Linked DNA regions of Homo sapiens: regions 1 and 2 are each linked to region 3. Evidence: fine-mapped QTL for protein levels in blood plasma. A gene starts in region 3. Each other region holds a variant in brackets. All regions are shown on one strand. Distances are between the middles of the regions.

What was found. PIP is the chance, under the fine-mapping model, that this variant and not a neighbour inherited with it causes the effect. Protein levels are from antibody-based Olink assays in UK Biobank. Linkage for the fine-mapping came from a reference panel and not from the study's own genotypes, which makes the PIPs less certain.
Region 1: its variant is fine-mapped to the plasma level of the VSIG10 protein (UK Biobank, PIP above 0.99). The variant lies in the coding sequence of VSIG10. If it changes the protein, the assay may bind it differently, which can mimic a change of level.
Region 2: its variant is fine-mapped to the plasma level of the VSIG10 protein (UK Biobank, PIP above 0.99). The variant lies in the coding sequence of VSIG10. If it changes the protein, the assay may bind it differently, which can mimic a change of level.

What each region holds. Positions count from the first base shown.
Region 1 is chr12:118,065,457-118,070,828 of GRCh38, reverse strand. VSIG10 (V-set and immunoglobulin domain containing 10) reads left to right here. Exons shown (of 9, transcript NM_019086.6): 8 at 2,232-2,452; 9 at 4,135-5,372. The coding sequence ends at 4,190. All of the region lies in intron 1 of LOC124903030 (a long non-coding RNA gene), which reads right to left. Among named protein-coding and RNA genes, the nearest start is that of WSB2, 7.0 kb to the right of the region's middle. The variant T/A (reference allele first, on the strand shown) is at 2,448.
Region 2 is chr12:118,071,496-118,079,548 of GRCh38, reverse strand. It overlaps VSIG10 (V-set and immunoglobulin domain containing 10), which reads left to right. Exons shown (of 9, transcript NM_019086.6): 4 at 1-203; 5 at 5,557-5,850. LOC124903030 (a long non-coding RNA gene) reads right to left here. Exons shown (of 2, transcript XR_007063479.1): 2 at 1,569-3,375. Among named protein-coding and RNA genes, the nearest start is that of WSB2, 14 kb to the right of the region's middle. The variant CCCAGCCCGAGGTGATCAT/T (reference allele first, on the strand shown) is at 5,677.
Region 3 is chr12:118,099,418-118,107,470 of GRCh38, reverse strand. It overlaps VSIG10 (V-set and immunoglobulin domain containing 10), which reads left to right and starts at 3,460. Exons shown (of 9, transcript NM_019086.6): 1 at 3,460-3,878. The coding sequence starts at 3,800. It overlaps LOC124903029 (a long non-coding RNA gene), which reads left to right and starts at 3,889. Exons shown (of 2, transcript XR_007063478.1): 1 at 3,889-4,482; 2 at 5,204-5,866. RefSeq lists an enhancer at 1,010-1,725 and a silencer at 3,367-3,616.

The DNA of each region.
Region 1 (5,372 bases), 35 kb after region 3:
CAGTGAAGTAATTTCTGCAAGCTCATTCCAGAAGAAAGCAGCAGTGCCTTCCTTCAGGTCCAGGTCTAATCAATTCCAAAGTCTGTGTTCTTTTACAGCGCCAAACCTCAGGGCTGGACACATTGCAGGTCTGTCATTGAGACAGAAAGACAATGTGTACATTTTGAGCCAGTCATTCATGCATTTGTTTTATTTAATTTTCTAAAAAGAGCTAAAAGAAAGAATCAGTCATAGTCTTAAGTTTTTTTTTCTTTTTCTTTTTTCTTTTTTTTTTTTTTTTTGAGACAGAATCTCTCTCTCTTGCTCAGGCTGGAGTGCAGTGGTGCAGTCTCAGCTCACTGCAATCCCTACCTCCCAGGTTGAGGCCATTCTCCTGCCTCAGCCTTCCGAGTAGTTGGGATTACAGGTGCGCACCATCAAGCCTGGCTAATTTTTGTATTTTTAGTAGAGACAGGGTTTCACCATGTTGCCCAGGCTAGTCTCAAACTCCTGGCCTCAAGTGGTCTGCCCGCCTCGGCCTCCCAAAGTGCCGGGATTACAGGCACGAGCCACTGCACCCAGCCAGTTTTACAGTGTTTTGGAAGACTACTATGAGCATGCCCAGAACCCCCTCCCAAAAGGAAACCCCAGTAGGGGCGAAGGAACCAAACGGAACTTGTGTATTTCATTTCCTAAGGAGATTCTGGGTGGGAGCAGAGTACTCTTCTCTATGATCCTATGGAAAAACAGTTCTTTACCTCTTCAAAATGACAGGATATTATTGACCTGGGACCATCTTTCGTAGCAAAACATTACCTTTACTGCCCTGTATTGGAGGGCCATTCTTAGTAAGTCTGTCATTCCCTGGGCTTATTTCTCACTGGAGGCATCAGTGTGGTGTAGTAGGAAAAGGCACTGAGACCATTGGACCTGGGTTCAAATGACAGCTGTGCCATTCCCAAGCCCTGTACCCATAGAAAATCCCTGACCCTTTCTGAGCCTTAGTCTCCTGATTTGTTTCACCAGGGGGTTTGTGAAGATTAAATGACAATGTAACACAGCTCCTCGGGCAGGTGACTGACCTGTGGCGTTCATTCTTCTTCCTTAAGAAATGCATAGTCCAGGCCGGGTGCAGTGGCTCACGCCTGTAATCCCAGCACTTTGGGAGGCCGAGGCGGGTGGATCACCTGAGGTCGGGAGTTCGAGACCAGCCTGACCAACATGCAGAAACCCCATCTCTACTAAAAATACAAAAAATTAGCCGCATGTAGTGGCGCATGCCTGTAATCCCAGCTGCTTGGGAGGTTGAAGCAGGAGAATTGCTTGAACCTGGGAGGCAGAGGTTGCGGTGAGCCATGATTGTGCCATTGCACTCCAGCCTGGGCAACAAGAATGAAACTCTGTCTCAAAAAAAAAAAAAAAAAGAAGAAGAAGAAGAAGAAGAAATGCACAGTCCAGGCCGGGCACAACAGTGGCTCATGCCTATAATCTCAGCACTCTGGGAGGCCAAGGTGGTTGGATCACTTGAGGCCAGGCATTCGAGACCAGCCTGGCCAACATGTTGAAACCATGTCTCTACTAAAAATACAAAAATTAGCCAGATGTGGTGGCGCATGCCTGTAGTCCCAGCTACTTGGGTGGCTGAGGCAGGAGAATTGCTTGCACCCAGGAGGTGGAGGTTGCAGTGAGCCAAGATTGCGCCACTGCACTCTAGCCTGGGCAACAGCGCAAGACTCTATCCCGAAAAAGAAAAAAAAAAGAAATGTATAGTCTGAAATGCAAAGTCTGGCTGGGTAGGCAAGCTAGTGAGCTGGTGATAAATAAACTATAGCATGGACTCTAAATGCAGTCATTAATTTAGGTCTTTAGCAGGAGGGAGAGGACTTTACCTGGGTCTTCCAAAATGAGGAAGGGGAGAGATTTTGGTAAGTAGAGCAGAATGAGGGCATTTCAGAAAAGGAAAAACATTTGTCTACCTGCTGTAAGGGGACATGAAATGGTAGATGCCTGGGACAATATGGTCACCTGCCCAAGGAGCAGGGGAGTAATAAACCAGCATGAGATACCATCATCTGAAGCAATTTGTGGCAGCATCTCTGCGGTTACCACACCATCACCTCATTACTTCACCAAGCTGTAATTTTCCATATTACTAATGGGGTTGCAAAGAATCTAGTGTTTCCTATTCAGTGAGGGCTGAAGTTGGGAAAAATAAGAAATCTTCTTGATTATTTTTCCCCTTTGGAAATTAGGGGACAAAACATGGATGATGTCATGGTTTTGGTGGATTCAGAAGAGGAAGAGGAGGAGGAGGAGGAGGAGGAGGAAGATGCTGCAGTAGGGGAACAGGAGGGAGCACGTGAGAGAGAGGAGTTGCCAAAAGAAATACCTAAGCAGGACCACATTCACAGAGTGACCGCCTTGGTGAATGGGAACATAGAACAGATGGGAAATGGATTCCAGGATCT[T/A]CAAGGTAAGCTCTTTTTCCTTAAACAAACAAACAGAAAACAAACAAAAAAAGGCGCGTTGGCTCACGCCTATAATCCCAGCACTTTGGGAGGCCAAGGTGGGAAGATCACTTAAGCCCAGAAGTTCAAGACTAGCCTGGGCAACATGGTGAGACTCTGTCTCTACGAAAAAAAAAAAAAAAAAAAAGAAAAATTAGCCGGTCATGGTGGTGTGCACCTGTGTTCCCAGCTACTTGGGAGGCTGAGGATCACTTGAGTGTAGGAAGTCCAGGCTGCAGTGAGCTATGATCACACCACTGCACTCCAGTCTGGGCAGCAGTAGGAAACCTGCCTCAGAAAAAAAAAAAAAAAAAAAAAAGCCCACAAACCTCTGAACTGCTGCGGTGAGCTTCCCAGCAGGAAATCTCTAAGGGGTGAGTTTAGTTTTTTTAAAAGGCTGGGGAAGATAGCTAAACTTTAGTCTAGAACCTGAGACTACTATCAACTACCAACATGAAAATCAAATTGACAAACACTTATCAAGGTCCTGGTCTAGGGTAGGCACAATATTGGCATTGTGGGAGAACAGAAAATAGAGACTGGTAGTGTCTGCATGCAGGGAGCTTTACAAGACCAGTTCAGGCCAGGTGCGGTGGCTCACGCCTATAATCCCAGCATTTTGGGAGGCTGAGGCAGGTGGATCATTTGAGGTCAGGAGTTTGAGACCAGCCTGGCCAACATGGTGAGACCCCCATCTCTACTAAAAATACAAAAATCAGCTGGGTGTGGTAGGTGCCTGTAATCCCAGCTACTTGGGAGACCAAGGCAGGAGAATCACTTGAACCCGGGAGACGGAGGCTGCAGTGAGCCGAGATCGTGCCACTGCACTTCAGCCTGGGTGACAGAGTGAGACTCTGTCTCAAAAAAAAAAAAAAAAAGGCCAGTTTAGGGGAACAAACTAAAACCTGCAGGGGAAATGGAAACAGGAGCAAGATTGAACCAACACACTGAGAGAGCAGTAGAGGAGCTGTTGCAGGAAGATATTTGATTAATTGCCTGATGGACAACACATTTAAAAATTATAGGCACGGTTGCTCATGCCTGTAATCCCAGCACTTTGGGAGGCCAAAGTGGGTGGATCGCTGGAGCTCAGGAGTTCGAGACTAGCCTTGGGAACATGGCAAAACGTGTCTCTACTAAGAATACAAAAAATTAGCTGGGTGTGTGGCATGTACCTGTAGCCCCAGCTACTTGGGAGGCTGAGGTGGGAGAATCACCTGAGCCTGGGAAGTTGAGGCTGCAGTGAGATGAGATCGTGCCACTGCACCAAAATTTATAGGACCTCAGAGAAAGATAAGAGCCCGGAGAGGTGTGCTGGTCAGGGGAAGCTTTATGGAAGAGGTAGACATGAAGCAAGGCGTTAAGACGGCTGAGTTGGAATAAGCAGAAAGGAGAGAGGGCGTTTCAGGTGAGGGGAGGGGCGTGAGCTGAGGACATGAAGGGTGACTGGTATCAAGCATGCCTAGAGGTTCTGAATGTAGAAAACAGGTGAAAAGGGGAAAACACACGCTGCCCTACCTTCTCCATGAGATCCCATTCTGTGGCTCACCAGGAAAGGACTAGAAATCACTGAGATGATTGATGACTGACGGTGGAAATAGAATCACACTCTGATTACAAAGCATTGGGTTTATTTCCCCCCATACAGATGACAGCAGTGAGGAGCAAAGTGACATTGTTCAAGAAGAAGACAGGCCAGTCTGAAGAAGAGGATGGTCCATGGTTGTCTTGCTCTGAAAGCTTGGAGAGCTACATTGAAGACGAGCTCTTCATTCAGCTTTGACTCCACCTGCACCCCTGGCGGGGGCTTGCACTAACAATGTTTGGGTCTCAGCAAAAAACAAAACCAAGCACACACATCTTTCCTTCCATGTATTGAAAAACATTGGTTTGATTTGCTCTAAGTTTTCCCAATGATGTTTAAAAGCTTTGAGAAGGAAAGCTGCTTTGGTGTCTGAGGTGCCACTTCTGCTGTGAATCCTGGCTTTATCCAGGTTGATCTACTGTGATAGATGCTGATTTAGAGGGAACAGAGGTCAGGGAAGCACTGGGTCTTGGTGCCTTTTGCCGCTTTTTTTTTTTTTTTTTTTTTTTTTTGAGACGGAGTCTCCCTCTATTGCCCAGGCTGGAGTGCAATGGCACGATCTTGGCTCACCACAACTTCTGCCTCCCAGGTTCAAGCGATTCTCCTGCCTCAGCCACGGCACCTTGCAAATATCAGCTCCTTGGAACAGGTGAAGTTCCAGGTACCAATGCCAATCAGAGGAAGGCAGTTTGGTTCAGGCTTTGGAGTTAGAAACACCTGAAGTTGAATCTGGGCTCTGTTGCTTCCTTCTTTCATGGGCTAGAGCACGACTCTTTACCTCTCTCTTGGCCTCAATTTCCTCACCTGTAAAATAGATGAGGAAGCTGCTCACTTATTATTGTCTCGTTCTGAAAGCTTGGAAAGCTACATCGAAGATGAGCTCTTCATTCAGCTTTGATTTGACCTGTACCCCTGGTGGGGGATTGCACTGGCAACATTTGGGTCTCAGCAAAAAAACCAAGCACACACATCTTTCCTTCCATTTATTGAAAAACATCTTTGTAAGATCCATTCATTGAAAAACATAATCCATTTATTGAAAAATATCTTTGTAAGATCACCTGCTAAATATGAAAATCTGACTTGAATTTGTACTCTTTAAAGTTGCGTATCTGCTCTAGTGGGCAGGACCTAGGGCTTAAAGGGGAACTTCCTTTCTCCATTTCTAAGAACTGGGACTCTAAAATGAGAAGCTGGTTGTCTGAAGTAACCCTGCAGGTGTGGTTGGGGAAGGTCTGTTTTCTTGGATGAAGGAACTAAACTAAGCATATCAGAGCACTGTCTTAACCAGTTTTATTTCC
Region 2 (8,053 bases), 28 kb after region 3:
GCAGCTTACCTGTCGCTGGGATGGGGGATACCCTGACCCTGACTTCCTGTGGATAGAAGAGCCAGGAGGTGTAATCGTGGGGAAGTCAAAGCTGGGGGTGGAAATGCTGAGCGAGTCCCAGCTGTCGGATGGCAAGAAGTTCAAGTGTGTTACAAGCCACATAGTTGGGCCAGAGTCGGGCGCCAGCTGCATGGTGCAGATCAGTGAGTCTGTTTTGCTTTGTCTTGGGGTTGGAGTTTCCCTGCCTTCCTTTCTCCTAGGAGAAGCATTTGAGAGTTCTTCTGAGGAAGAAATCCCCGGATGTCAGGGTGGACTGAATTCCTTCCCTTTCTCCCTTTCTTTTTCTTTATGTTTCACTTTTTTCAAATTTTAGAGATGCTTAGCTCAAGCTTCTTCATTCTAGTCCCAGCTATTTTCCACTTGACAGATACTAATTGAACCCCTGCTATGTGCCAGGTACAGTTTCTACGTGCTGAGGATGGAGCAGTGAACAAGACATATGAGGTTCATCGTCTTTTGTGTCTGTCCATTTACTGTTGCTGTAAAGGAATACCTGAGGCTGGGTAGTTTATAAAGAAAATTTTTTTTTTTTTTTTTTTTTTTTTTTTTTTAGGCAGAGTCTTGCTCTGTTGCCCAGACTGGAGTGCAGTGGCATGATCTTGGCTCACTACAGCCTCTGCCTCCCAGGTTCAAGCAATTCTCCTGCCTTAGCCTCTTGAGTAGCTGGGACTACAGGCGTGCACCATCATGCCCAGCTAATTTTTGTATTTTTAGTAGAAATGGGGTTTCACCATGTTGGCCAGGCTGGTCTCGAACTGACCCCAAGTGATCTACCTGCCTCGGCCTCCTAAAGTGCTGGGATTATAGGTGTGAGCCACCGCACCTAGCTGAAAATTACTTTATTTGCTCATAGTTCCGTAGGCTGTGCAAGAAACATGGCACCAGCATCTGCTTGGCTTCTGGTGAGAGCGTCAGGCTGCTTCTGCTCATGACAGAAGGTAAAGGGGAGCCAGCTTATGCAGAGTTCCATAGTGAGAGAGGAAGCAAGAGAGAGAAGGGAGGTGCCAAACTCTTTTTAACAACCAGCAGTGGCTGGGCGTGGTAGCTCACACCTGTAATCTCAGCACTTTGGGAGGCTGAGGCAGGTGGATCACTTGAGGTCAGGAGTCTGAGACCAGCCTGGCCAACATGATGAAACCCCATCTCTACTAAAAATACAAAAATTAGTTGGGCGTGGTGGCGCATGCCTGTAGTCCCAGCTACTCGGGAGGCTGAGGCAGGAGAACTGCGTGAACCCAGGAGGCGGAGCTTCCAGTGAGCCGAGATCGCACCACTGCACTCCAGCCTGGGCGATGGAGTGAGACTCCATCTCAAAAAAAGAAAATAGTGACAAAAATTGTAATTACTTTTGCAGTAAGCTAATAGAATGAGAATTCACTTACCCAAACACCTTCCATTAGGCCTTACCTCCAACACTGAGGATCAAATTTAAACATGAGATTTGGAGGGGACAAACATTCAAACTATAGCTTCTAGTTATGTAACAAATTACTCTCAAACATAGTGGCTTAAAACAAGAATAACCATTTATTATCTGATGATTTCTGTGGGTCAGGAATTCAGAGAGGGCACAGTGGGCATTGGGGATGGTTTGTCTTGGCTCTGTATGTCTGGGGTGTCAGCCGGAAGAATTGAAGGTTGCGGGGCTGAAATCATCTGAAAGATCTACTTTTGAAGTCCTCACTCCCATGCCTGGCAACTATTTCTTCTCCATGTGGGATTCTCCATAAGGCTGCTTGAGTGTCCTTCCAACATGGCAGATGGCTTCCCTCAGAGCAAATGATCCAAAATGGAGTGAGTCAAGCTGATGCTATCCTTTCTATGACCTAGCCTCAGGAGTTACATGGGATCCCTTCTGCCACACTCTGTGTCTTAGAAATAAGTCCAGCCCACATTGAAGAGGGCTGGGAAGAATTAGGCACCACTTTTTGAAGGGAGGAGTGTCAGAGAATGTCTGTACATATTAAAACCACAAACATTCCTCTTTCACAGAGCTTATATTCTGGGTGGCATGGGGGTAGAAGGAAGACAGAAAGTACAAAAACAAGTAAGATAGGTCCAGATATGATGATAATATGAGGATAATAAAATGGTATATATAAAAGGGAGGCCTTTATAAGAAGAGGGGCACTTTTCCTAGGGTGGCAGGGAGGTCTCCGTGAGATGGTAATAATCTATCCTTAGAATGAGAAGGAGCTGGCTAGGTGAAGATCCGTGGGCTGAGTGTTCCTGGCAGAGGCAACAGCAAACGCAGAGGCCCTGAGGTGGAAACAAACTTGGCATTTGAGGACCCGAGAGAAGACCAGTGTGGCCGGGGCATCGTGTGTAAAGTACTGATAAAGCTGGGTGGAGGTTGGGGGTTCAGTTGTGTCCCCCCAGTAGATATGTTCAAGTCCAAACCCTAATACCTGTGGATATGACTTTATTCAGAAAGAGTCTTTGCAGATGGAATCAAGTTAAGATAAGGTCATAGTGGATTAGAGTAGGCTGTAATCCAATGACTGATGTCTTTCTTTGTAAGAAGGGAGAAGGCCGGGCGTGGTGGCTCACGCCTGTAATCCCAGCACTTTGGGAGTCAGAGGCAGGAGGATAGCTTACGGCTAGGAATTCGAGACCAGCCTGGGCAACACAGACCTTGTTTCTACAAACAATAAAAAATAAATAAAGTAGCTGGGCATGGTGGTATGCACCTATAATCCCAGCTACTGGGGAGGCTGATGTGAGAGTATTGCTTGTACCTAGGAGGTTGAGGCTGCAGTGAGCGGTCACTCCAGGCCTGGGTGTCAGAGTGAAACTCTGTCTCAAAACAAAAAAAAGGGAAAGGTAAGAGAGATCAGAAGCGCCAGGATCAGTCAGATGTGGTAGCTCATGACTGTAATCCCAGCACTTTGGGAGGCCAAGGACGGGCATATTGCTTGGGCCCAGGAGTTTGAGACCAGCCTGGGCAACACAGCGAAACACCATGATATGGTTTGGCTCTGTGTCCCCACCCAAATCTCATGTTGAATTGTAACTCCAAATATTGGCAGAGGGACCTGGTGGGAGGTAATTTGATCATGGGAATGTATTTCACACAAACACTAACACTAACGATAGGTGATGAGCCAAAAAAAAAAAAAAGGGACCGTGCATAATTTTCATGATATCCATCACACAGATAAACAAAAATGTCCTCACATTCAAAGCCATCCTGGGCCGAATTTAGCCCGCAGCTGCAGGTTGGAAAAGCTTGCTCTAGAGCGTCCAAAAGGAACCAGCTCTGCCAACATCTTGATGTTAACCTTGTAAGACGTTCTAGACTCCTGGCCTCCACAACTGTTAAGAGAATAAATGTGCTTTAAGCCACTAAGTTTGTCACAATCTATTACATCAGCAATTGGAAACAAATACAGCTGCCCTCTTGTCCCCTTGAAATCCTTGTCAGATATGTGTCCATTTTTATACGATCAGTACAGTTTTTATGTGTAAAAGTGTATAGCATAGAAGGAAGGCTTATGGATACAGTAGCCAGTTTATCCTGGTTTGCACAGAACTCTCCTGGTTTTAGGACTGAAAACTCCTCATTCTGGGAATACTCCACGTCCTGGGCAGACTGGGGCAGTTGATCACTCTGAATCCTAGCTGCATTGCCTATTTAGTTCTGTAGCATTCAGCAAATTACTTAACTTTCTCTGTGCCTCAGTTTCCTTATCTGCAAAATGGGCATAATAACAGGGTTGCTGTGAGAGTGAATTGGGTTAATACATGTAACAGTGCCTTGCCCACAGTAAATGCCTAGTAATCTTAGGCTTATTATGATGTAAGACGAGGTGTGGTGGAGAAATTTCTGGAGTTGGCCAGGCACGGTGGCTCATGCCTGTAATCCCAGCACTTTGGGAGGCCAAGGTGGAGGATCATTTGAGGTCAGGAGTTCAAGACCAGCCTGACCAACATGGTGAAACCCTGTTTCTACTAAAAGTACAAAAATTAGCCAGGCATGGTGGCAGGCACCTGTAATCCCAGCTACTTGGGAGGCTGAAGCATGAGAATCACTTGAACCTGGGAGGCAGAGGTTGCAGTGAGCCAAGATCACAGCACTGCACTCCAGCCTGGGTGACAGAGCGAGACCTTGTCTCAAAAACAAAAAAAGAAAAAAAGAAATTTCTGGAGTTGCTTCATTAGGAAGGAAATGTAGTGTTCCTGCCTTACCCATGAGGGATATGTTCCTAGATCCCCAGTGGATGCCTGAAGCCATGGGTAGCACTGAACCCTATATATATATATACACACACACACATATATACACACACACACATATATATATACACACATATATACATATATATACATATATATACATATACACATATATACATATATACACATATATATACATATACACATATATACATATATACATATATATACTATGCTTTTTCTTATACATAAATACTTATGATAAGGTTAATTTATACATTAGGCACAATAAGAGATTAACAATAGTAACTAATAAAAAATAGACAAGTATAACAATATACTGTCATAAAAGGTATGCGAATGTGATCTTTCTCTCAAAATATCTACTCAGCCTTCTTGTGATGAAGAAAGGCTCATGCAGATGGTGTGAGATTTCGTCACACGACTCAGAACAATGTGCAGTTTAAAACTTAGGAAATTGTGAATATACTTAAAAGTACTGCAAGAAATGAAAAAATAAAAAATTTATGAATTGGCCCGGCACGGTGGCTCACGCCTGTAATCCTAGCACTTTGGGAGGCTAAGGCAAGTGGATCACCTGAGGTCAGGAGTTTGAGACTAGCCTGGCCAATATGGTGAAACCCCGTCTCTACTAAAAATACAAAAATTAGGTGGGCGTGGTGGCTCATGCCTGTAATCCCAGCCACTTGGGAGGCTGAGGCAGGAAAATCTCTTGAATTCAGGAGGTGGAGATTGCAGTGAGCTGAGATTGCATCACTGCACTCCAGCCTGGGCGACAAAGTGAGACTCCATCTCAAAAAAAAAAAAAAATTGTTCATTTCTGAAATTTTCCATTTAGTATTTTTGGACTGTAGTCAACCATGGTAACTGAAACCTCAGAAAGTGAAATCACAGATAAAGGGGACTGGGGCCGGATGCGGTGGCTCACGCCTGTAATCCCAGCACTTTGGGAGACTGAGATGGGCAAATCACCTGAGGTTGGGAGTTTGAGACCAGCCTGGGCAACATGGTGAAACCCTGTCTCTACTAAAAATACAAAAATTAGCCAGGTGTGGTGGCGCATGCCTGTAATCCCAGCTCGGGAGGCTGAGGCAGGAGAATTGCTTGAACCCGGGAGGGAGGCAGAGGTTGCAGTGAGCTGAGATCGCACCACTGCACTCCAGCCTGGGCAACAGAGCAAAACCTCCATCTCAAAACAAAACAAAACAAAACAAAAAACTACTGCAGTTTTCCTGCAGATCTCAGGCCATGACTTGAATCTCTTTAAACATTTGTCTTTGTTTACCTTCTGATCACCAGGGGGTCCCTCCCTTCTCTCTGAGCCCATGAAGACTTGCTTCACTGGGGGCAATGTGACGCTTACATGCCAGGTGTCTGGGGCCTACCCCCCTGCCAAGATCCTGTGGCTGAGGAACCTTA[CCCAGCCCGAGGTGATCAT/T]CCAGCCTAGCAGCCGCCATCTCATTACCCAGGATGGCCAGAACTCCACCCTCACTATCCACAACTGCTCCCAGGACCTGGATGAGGGCTACTACATCTGCCGAGCTGACAGCCCTGTAGGGGTGAGGGAGATGGAAATCTGGCTGAGTGTGAAAGGTGAGTGGTGGAACTGGGCCTGAAGGAGGGAGGGTTCAGAGCTTCAGAGCACCCAGCATCAGCATGAGGACAGCCTGGTGCCTCCCTACACATGGGTCACTGCCAACTGGGAGAAGGCATATCTGCTTGCTTATGACTTGACAAGGTGGCTGGAAGAAATTATCCAACCCTAAACTCACTAATATTTCCATAGGTAGCAAAAATTACATAATATCTATACACACCAACGAATAGATATCTAGTGTATGTCAGTTGTAAAGCATAACAGCAAAATGAACACCTAAGAAACTATCATCCCACTGAGGATACAGAATAGTACCAACATGCATTAGGTTACTTGTATGTCTCAGGGCCAGATTTGGAAACAACGATAGGGCTGGGCACAGTGGCTCACGCCTGTAATCCCAGCACTTTGGGAGGCCGAGGCGGGTGGATCACTTGAGGCCAGGAGTTTGAGACCAGCCTGGCTAGTATGGTGAAACCTCGTCTTTACTAAAAATACAAAATTACTTGGGAGGCTGAGATGGGCAGATCACCTGAGGTTGGGAGTTCGAGACCATTAGCTGAGCATGGTGGCAGGTGCCTGTAATCCCAGCTACTCGGAAGTCTGAGGCAGAATTGCTTGAATCTGGGAGGCGAAGGTTGCAGTGAGCCGAGATCACACCACTGCACTTCAGCTTGGGTGACAGAGCGAGAATCCACTTCAAAAAGAAGAAAATAGCAATAGAACTTTAAAAACAGGATGCCTGCTTAAATTTGAGTTTAGAAAAATAAATACTTTTAAGTATAAGTGTGTCCCAAATATTTCATGAGACATACTTACACTAAAAAAACTATTCATTGTTTATCTGAAATCCAAATTTCACTGGGCATACTGAATTTTACCTGGGAACCCTCCCTGTAGGCCTAGTCTCATCTTGGGCCTCTCTCGAAAGGTAACCATGGTCCTGAATTTTAAGTTTTACTATATATGTCTCTACTTATTTCTTTTTATTTTATTTTTTATACAGATGAGGTCGCACTGTGTTGACCAGGTTGGTCTTGAACTCCTGGCCTGAAGTGAGCCTCCCATCTCAGCCTCCCAAAGTGTTGAGATTGCAAGCATGAGCCACCACACCTGGCCTCTTTCTTCCCTTCCCTTCTCCCTTTTCCTTTCTCTTCTCCCTTTTCCCTTTCCTACCTTCCTTCTTTTCTTTCCCTCCCCTCCCCTCCTCTTTCTTTCTTTTTTTTTTTTGAGACGGAGTCTTGCTCTGTCACCCAGGCTGGAGTGCAGTGGTGCGATCTCGGCTCACTGCAAGCTCCACCTCCTGGGTTCATGCCATTCTCCTGCCTCAGCCTCCCAAGTAGCTGGGACTGCAGGCGCCCGCCGCTGTGCCCGGCTAATTTTTTGTATTTTTAGTAGAGATGGGGTTTCACTGTGTTAGCCAGGATGGTCTCGACCTCCTGACCTCGTGATCCGCCTGCCTCGGCCTCCCAAAGTGCTGGGATTACAGGCGTGAGCCACCGCGCCCGGCCCTCTTTCTTTCTTTGAGATGGAATTTCGCTCTTGTTGCCCAGGCTGGAGTGCAATGGCGCGATCTTGGCTCACCGCAACCCCCGCCTCCCGGGTTCAAGTGATTCTCCTGCCTCAGCCTCCCAAGTAGCTGGGATTACAGACATGCACCACCACACCTGGCTAATTTTGTATTTTTAGTAGAGACGGGGTTTTAACATGTTGGTCAGGCTGGTCTCGATCTCCCGACTTCAGGTGATCCGCCCTCCTCAGCCTCCCAAAGTGCTGGGATTACAGGCATGCGCCACTGCGCCCGGGCTCTAGTACCAATTCTTAAATAGTGCTTCCTTTGCTCAAGACCCTGTCATATATCAATTATACTTACGTGTGGACCCGTTCCTGGACTCTCTGTTCTGTTCCGTTGATCACTCTGTTTATCATGGCATTGATAACTCTCAACACTCTTACTTACCATGGCCTTAGAAATAGTCTCAGTGTTTGGTAGACAGAGAGATTTTAACTTTCCATTGTTTGTTCACATTCCCTGCTCCATCTGATCCCCACAAACTCTCTGAGGTTGGGTGATAAAATATTTATCTGGCATTACAGACAGGTCATAAGCCTTACCCAAGGTCAGGAATCAAGACAAGAACTGGATCCACGCAGAGAAAGGGAGGTGTTGTTCTAATTGCACACATATCTGATGGAAGA
Region 3 (8,053 bases):
CTTGGCTTTCCTGAGTGCTGGGATTATAGGCATGAGCCACCTTGCCTGGCCCAGTTACTGATTTTATTTACCGCTTGTTTATTGCAGGTGAGGATGTAAGGTGTTTGCCAGAAAAGCTGAGGAACTACAATATCAAAACTAATCAATTCTCATTTGTTTACTCAACAAATGTATATTAGAATGGCAACTAGCTGGCAGGTACTGAGGATACAGGAAACAGGTCTGGTTAGTATAGGATCTCCACAAGGTCAAACATGAAAAGCAAGAACCAAGTTGGGTGCAGTGGCTCATGCCTGTAATTCCAGCACTCTGGGAGGATTGACTTAAGCCTAGGAGGTTGAGGCTGCAGTGAGGTATGATTACACCACTGCACTTCAGCCTGGATGATATAGGGAGACTCTGTCTAAAAAAAAAAAAAAAAAAAAATTCCAGGCCGGGTGTGGTGGCTCACGCGTGTAATCCCAGCACTTTGGGAAGCCGAGGCAGGTGGATCACGAGGTCAGGAGATCGAGACCATCCTGGCTAACTGAAGGGGTGGGTTGCCCCTCCACACCTGTGGGTGTTTCTCGTAAGGTGGAACGAGAGACTTGGAAAAGAAAAAGACACAGAGACAAAGTATAGAGAAAGAAATAAGGGGACCCGGGGAACCAGCGTTCAGCATATGGAGGATCCCGCCAGCCTCTGAGTTCCCTTAGTATTTATTGATCATTCGTGGGTGTTTCTCCGAGAGGGGGATGTGTCAGGGTCACAAGACAATTGTGGGGAGAGGGTCAGCAGACAAACACGTGAACAAAGGTCTATGCATCATAGACAAGGTAAAGGATTAAGTGCTGTGCTTTTAGATATGCATACACATAAACATCTCAATGCTTTACAAAGCAGTATTGCTGCCCGCAGGTCCCACCTCCAGCCCTAAGGCGGTTTTTCCCTATCTCAGTAGATGGAACGTACAATCGGGTTTTATACCGAGACATTCCATTGCCCAGGGAGGGGCAGGAGACAGATGCCTTCCTCTTGTCTCAACTGCAAGAGGCATGCCTTCCTCTTATATTAATCCTCCTCAGCACAGACCCTTTACGGGTGTCGGGCTGGGGGCAGTCAGGTCTTTCCCTTCCCACAAGGCCATATTTCAGACTATCACATGGGGAGAAACCTTGGACAATACCTGGCTTTCCTAGGCAGAGGTCCCTGCGGCCTTCCGCAGTGTTTGTGTCCCTGGGTACTTGAGATTAGGGAGTGGTGATGACTCTTAAGGAGCATGCTGCCTTCAAGCATCTGTTTAACAAAGCACATCTTGCACCGCCCTTAATCCATTTAACCCTGAGTTTGACACAGCACATGTTTCAGAGAGCACGGGGTTGGGGGTAAGGTCACAGAATCTCAAGGCAGAAGAATTTTTCTTAGTACATAACAAAATGGAGTCTCCCATGTCTACTTCTTTCTACACAGACACAGTAACAATCTGATCTCTCTTGCTTTTCCCCACACTAACACGGTGAAACCCCGTCTCCACTAAAAATACAAAAATTATCCGGGCGTGGTGGCAGGAGCCTGTAGTCCCAGCTACTTGGGAGGCTGAGGCAGGAGAATGGCATGAGCCTGGGAGGCGGAGCTTGCAGCGACAGAGCGAGACTCCGTCTCAAAAAACAAACAAACAAAATTCCTGTCAAGAATCTGATGAACAGTTATTTTATTTTATTTTTTATTTATTTATTTTTTTTGAGACGAAGTCTCGCTCTTCTCCCCAGGCTGGAGTGCAATGGCGCGATCTCGGCTCACTGCAACCTCCACCTCCTGGGTTCAAGCGATTCTCCTGCCTCAGCCTCCCAAGTAGCTGGGATTACAGGCGCCTGCCACCACACCGGGCTAATTTTTGTATTTTTAGTAGAGACGAAGTTTCACCATGTTGGCCAGGCTACTCTCGAACTCCTTACCTCAGGTGATCCACCTGCCTCGGCCTCCCAAAGTGCTGGGATTACAGGCATGAGCCAACGTGCCCGGCTGATGAACAGTTATTTAAAAATATTTGAGCAAAGAATAAAAAAGGGCTGAGCGCGGTGGCTCGCACCTGTAATCCCAACACTTTGGCAGGCCAAGGCGGGTGGATCACTTGAGGTCAGGAGTTCGAGACCAGCCTGGGTAACATGGAGAAACGCTGTCTTTACTAAAATTACAAAAATTAGCTGGGCGTGGTGCTGCACACCTGTAGTCCCAGCTACTCGGGAGGCTGAGGTGGGAGGATCACTTGAGCCTGGTAGTTTGAGGCTGCAGCGAGGTATGATTGTGCTACTGCACTCTAGCCTGGGCAACTGGAGTGACACCCTGTCTCAAAAAAATAAAAAACAGAAAAGTAAAAAAGGCAGAACTGTTCAGCTTCATTGCTCAGTTCACCAGGAGAAACATTTTTTTTTTAAAGTGGTTTCAAGAGGATTTCCTCATGGAAGAAGCATTTCAATAAGGGGACCGTTGAACAACAGAACTAATGATTTTTTTTTAACGTTAATATTTATTTTGAGATGGAGTCTCGCTCAGTCGCCCAGGCTGGAGTGCAATGGCGTGATATCGGCTCACTGCAACCTCCGCCTGCTGGGTTCAAGCGATTCTCCTGCCTCAGCCTACCCAGTAGCTGGGATTACAGGCGCCCGCCATCATGCCCGGCTAATTGTTGTATTTTTAGTAGAGACAGGGTTTCACCATGTTGGTCAGGCTGGTCTCGAACTCCTGACCTTGTGATCCGCCCACCTCGGCCTCCCAAAGTGCTGGGATTACAGGTGTGAGCCACCACGCCCTGCCATATTATTATTATTTGAAACAGGAAGTTTCTCCTAGGGCTGTTTTATGGATGGCTCTTCCTGAGGATATCAAAGCCGCATTTTCCCCAGGACAGAATGGGATGAGGGCATGGCAGGGAAGAGAGGAGCTTAGCCTGGGAATCTGACTGGGTAAGGGGTGGGAGAACTAAAAGGGGAAAAGCAAAAACAAAACTCTTGAGAAACACGTCCTGGGGACTCCTTGGCTCTCGCTGTCACTGTGTGGTCCCAGCCAGTTCACTGGAGAACCGGAGTCTCGTGGCTGCTTTGGCTGAAAGTCAGGGGATCATCTTTCTCTGGCTCCCTTTTGCAGAGGGTAAGGAAAGGAAGCGATGGCGGCCTTGGCGCCCGCCCTGCGCCCAGGGACACAGACCGGAATCCCTCGAGACGCTCAGCGGGGACTGCCAGGGGGGTCCTGCGTTCTGCAGCTTGGCAACCGCTTCCTCCGGGTTCTGCAGCCCGGGGCAGCGGCGGGGGTTGCGTCCTGCGGCAGCTGCAGGGCTCCGTCCCGCCCGCTGTCCCCGCGACTCGGTACTGCTGTCCCGGGCGGAGTGGACTGGGGAGGGCCCAGCCTCCGCGCCCCGCCCCTGGCCCGGCGGGACCCGGCTCGGCGCGCCCTCGGCAGAAAGCCCTCCTCCCGGGCCAAGGTAGAGGAAGTTGGGCTCCCGCCTGGCTGGGAGGCGGGAGGGATCCCGCTCCTGTTGTTTTCCGCCGGCAGGAGTAGGCTGGCGGGCGCAGGGGGCGGGGTGCGCCCTCCCTCCCCGGCCAGGGCGCTCGGGAGCGGGGACCCGAGCCTGCAGCCGAGCTCCGCTGCCGGCCCTGGACACTCGGCTCAGCCAAGCATCCTTCCTGGGGGCCGAGGAAGTGGGGCCACTCTGCCGTTCCGAGGACCTGGGAGGAGCCCTCGGTACCCCGGGCCCCGGGGCCCTGGGGCACACACGTCCAGCCCAGCCCGAGCCTGCGTTTCCTGAGCCGGGATCTGGGGCGAGATGGCCGCAGGCGGCAGTGCGCCCGAGCCCCGCGTCCTCGTCTGCCTCGGGGCGCTCCTGGCCGGCTGGGTCGCCGTAGGTAAGGGGCCGCGATCTGGAGGGAAAAGTTGAGTTTTCCCAGTCAGCGGTGGGGAGGGGACAGCGAGAGACCCAATTCCCTCCGACTCCGCCCGGATCCGTGGTGGCCCCAGCCTAGAAGCTGCCCCAGGAGGGTCTTGGTTTCCTGCTCGCAGCTCGGCCGTCTTTGCAGGAAGGAGTTTTCCCGGGCGCCCGGTGCGGGGCGAGATACCCCCAGCCTCCTGGGGTGGGCAGCCGGTGAGGCTGCAGAGGAGCCGAGCCGAGCCGACGTGCGGGGGCAAAGTAAAGAGGCACGTGTGCCGGGAAAGTGATTTTTTTTTTTAAGCGTCGGATGTAAATTCGCGTTCTGGTTTTAGTAGTAACTGATACGCTGGTGCTCAAACTCGAGACTCCCACTTTATTTTTCTCCTCCCTCTGCCCAAGGTTGAACTCGCCTTACACCTGTAACCGGTGGACTTCCCTACACACCTTTGCAAGTCTTCCTGTGCCGACCAGCGCCTTCAAAGCGGGGTCTTCCGCCTTTACTTTTGGAAAAGCTTTTTATTTTGAAATACTTGGCTGACTTACAAAAGACTTCCCCTCACACTTGACATGATTGACAAAAGGTCTGAAATGCTTCATCTATGGTCTGCTTTGCTACGAAAAAAGAATTGGAGGGGTGCTTACAAAAATATGTAGAATGTAAAAAGATTGAACTATTTATATATATTTGAATTTAATTCACCAGCATGCCTACTGTGCATGCCTACTGTGTGCTGGGAGTGTGACAAGCTGGGAGGAGGCTGGGGTGCAGGGAGAGGAGATGGAGCCAGGAGGTGGTGAAGTTTGCCAGGATGCAGGCAGAGCGCTACTTTTTGTGTTCCCGGGTCTGCTCCACCCAACGGGTCTCCTCTTGCACGTTTCTGGAGATGGGTTGTAAAGTATGCTGGAGCTTCTTAGCAGCAAGTGCCAAGAGTTCCTAATTATTAGGCTCATACAATTTTATTTTGCTTTTTTTTTTTTAACCAACCATTTAAAAACAATAACATCTCTAGATTTCCAGTTTATCTGGAAAAATCTGAAGGTCTGGCAACACGGGGCCTGCTTTCCCAGTTGGAATTGGGCAGTGGTCATCCTCTTATCTAGGGCATATGAGCCCAAATTTGTTCCACCTCTCCCTGTTGTAATATTTGCCCCGCCACCTTCAGTCATGGGTGTTACCTGCTGGCCCTGCAGGCATTTGGCTGAGTAATCACTGTGCTGGGGTGTGGGTGATGGGGGAGGACAGTTCCTAGTTGGTCATCTCTGGACGTGAAAGGTGGTTGTCAAGTATTCCCATCTCCCCAGCTGTTTGCAGTGTTTCCTGCACGATGAACACCAGGAACCTGGGAAGTGAGAAGAACCCTGGGATGAAGTCATCCTGCTGGAATGACCTGGCTTTCAGGCTGACTGCCACCCGCCCCATGGGGAACCTATCTCCACTGCTATGGCCAGCTATTTTTTTCGAGCCAGGCTCTCGCTCTGTTGCCCAGGCTGGAGTGCAGTGGTGCAATCACTGCACTGATCCTCCCACCTCAGCCTACAAGTAGCTGGGACTACAGGCGTGCACCACCACGCCTAGCTAATTTCTAAAATTTTTTTGTAGAGACGGTCTCTACAATCGCTTGAGCCCAGGCTGGTCTTAAACTCCTGGACCCAAGCGATCCTCCTGTCTCGGCCTCCCAAAGTGTTGGGATTATGGGTGTGAGCCACCGTGTTGGGCCTTTGCCCAGCTATTTTGATGCCCAGACCTGCTTCACCTTTGTGTATGATGCCAGGGGGCTTCCTGAGCTTGGTGTATTTTTGTTGTGTGTTTGTTTTTTAAGTTGGGAGTTTTTGGGGAAAAAAATTTTTCTCCTGACATTCAATGCCAGACAACTTATATGCATCCACTAGCTACCCCGGATTGTAAATCCTAGGTTATTCTTGGGAAAAGTTGCTTTAAAAAAATAAATAAATGTTTGGGTATAACTCCTACTCTGTAAATAATAATACATGGGCAGCATCAGGGAGTTTATATTACTCCCTCTTCGGTTCTCTATTGTACATTTAAGGTTGGGGGGCAAGAAGGACCCTCTGGACACCATATGAATGACTTCTAAACTTGTTACTATATTTTATCATTGCATCCTGTCTGGTGCAGGAGACCAGAGTAACGTGACCTGAGTGACAATCCCACATCTCCCAGTGATTTGCTTGGGACTTTAAGTGATAACTTAATCTTCCTAAATCTCAATTTTCTCAGTAGTAAAGTGAGGAGGTTTAGGACTGCCAGGCAAGAACTACCCCTTCCATGTCTATGTCAGACATCACTAAATCGATGACTGTGTTCTTTTCCACTGAACCAGGACTCAATCTCATCTTCAACCCAGCCCACAGGGCAGCCACATCTCTGGACTAGATGATCTCCAAGGGCACCTTCAGATACAGTGGTTTAAAAAAGAACGGAGTAAGCCAAACCAGGAGAAGTGAAATGTCTTCAAATGGTTTCTTTTGTGATCATGTCATTCTATGCCTTGGAGGAGAAAACAATGTTAGCTCAAGTTCCAAGACTAAAGTTTCACCACGGCTTTTTTCCAAGCCACTGTTCCTTTATTTCTTTGCCAAGGAGTTAGGCAAGGGGCAGGTCTGCAGGTTGCATGAACACATGTTGCATCTGTAACTCTGAAGTTCATCTTCCTTTCCATTGTGGCGGTTGCCACTGGATAATTTGGGTTCCCAATCCTAATAATTTAAAAATAATTCTTGGCTGGGTGCGGTGGCTCCCGCCTGTAATCCCAGCACTTTTGGAGGCCGAAGTGGGCAGATCACCTGAGGTCAGGAGTTCAAGACCAGCCTGGCCAACACAGTGAAACCCTGTCTCTACAAAAATACAAAAACTTAGCGGGGCATGATGGCGGGTGCCTGTAATCCCAGCTACTCAGAAGACTGAGGCGGGAGAATTGCTTGAACCCAAAGGCAGAGGTTGCAGTGAGCCGAAATTACGCCTTGCACTCCAGCCTAGGCAACAGAGCGAGACTTCATCTCAAAAAAAAAGTAAATAAATAAATAAAAAGAATTCTTATCTGCTTTTTTTTTTGAGACAGAGTCTTGCTCTGTTACCCAGGCTGGAATGCAATGGTGCGATCTTGGCTCACTGCAACCTCCGCCTCCCAGGTACAAGGGATTCTCCTGCCTCAGCCTCCCGAGTAGGTGGGATTACAGGTGTGCGCCACCACGCCCGGCTAACTTTTTGTATTTTTAGTAGAAACGGGGTTTCACCGTGTTAGCCAGGCTGGTCCCGAGCTCTTGATCTTGCCCACCTTGGCCTCCCAAAGTGCTGGGGTTACAGGCAGGAGCCACCACGCCCGGCCATTCAGCTAATTTTTAGTAGAGATGAGGTTTCACCATGTTGGCCAGGCTGGTCTCCAACTCCTGACCTCAAGTGATCCACCTGCCTCGGCCTCCCAAAATGCTGGGATTACAGGCGTGAGCCACCGCCCCCGGCCCTCACCTGCTTTTTAAAGTGATTGCTCAGAAGCATTTCTTGCTGTTTTGGAATCTCTGTCATTAGATGGCATTCTCCACCTTTCAGCAAGTGGCTTAGTTTTTAAAATTTGGTGTTTTGTTTGTTTGTTCGTTTGTTTTCATCCTGACTTGGCTGAAAAGTCTTGGGAATGGTGTGGCCAAAATGGTGAGAGAATCAGAACTTCCTGGGGCTCCAGGCTGGCTTCAGATCTTTAAAAGGGAGCCCCTTCTAACCAGACAAGAGGCCAAATACAGATAATGATTACTCTTTCACTTAAATGGGAAGGATTGCCAGGGGCAAGTGGCAGTTTATTTTTTCTATAACAGCTTTATTCAGATATAATTTACATGCCACAAAATTCACCCTTTTTAAGTGTACCACCCAGGGGATTTTAGTGTAGTCCAGGGTTATACAGCCATCACCACTAATTCATCATTTTTATCACCCCAACAGGTTCTGCCCATCTTCCTATTCCTGCAGCCTCTTTGTATTGGGTCTTGATTGTGGAGGGGGCTGGACAATTGTGAAACTTCTCAGCAAAATGGGTTGCATTTGCTTCTTGTTACCTAGTGACAGTCTAATGCCCGTTAGCACCTGTCGGTCTTTTTTTATGAGTCAGGGTTGGCTGGGCGTGGCAGCTCACGCCTGTA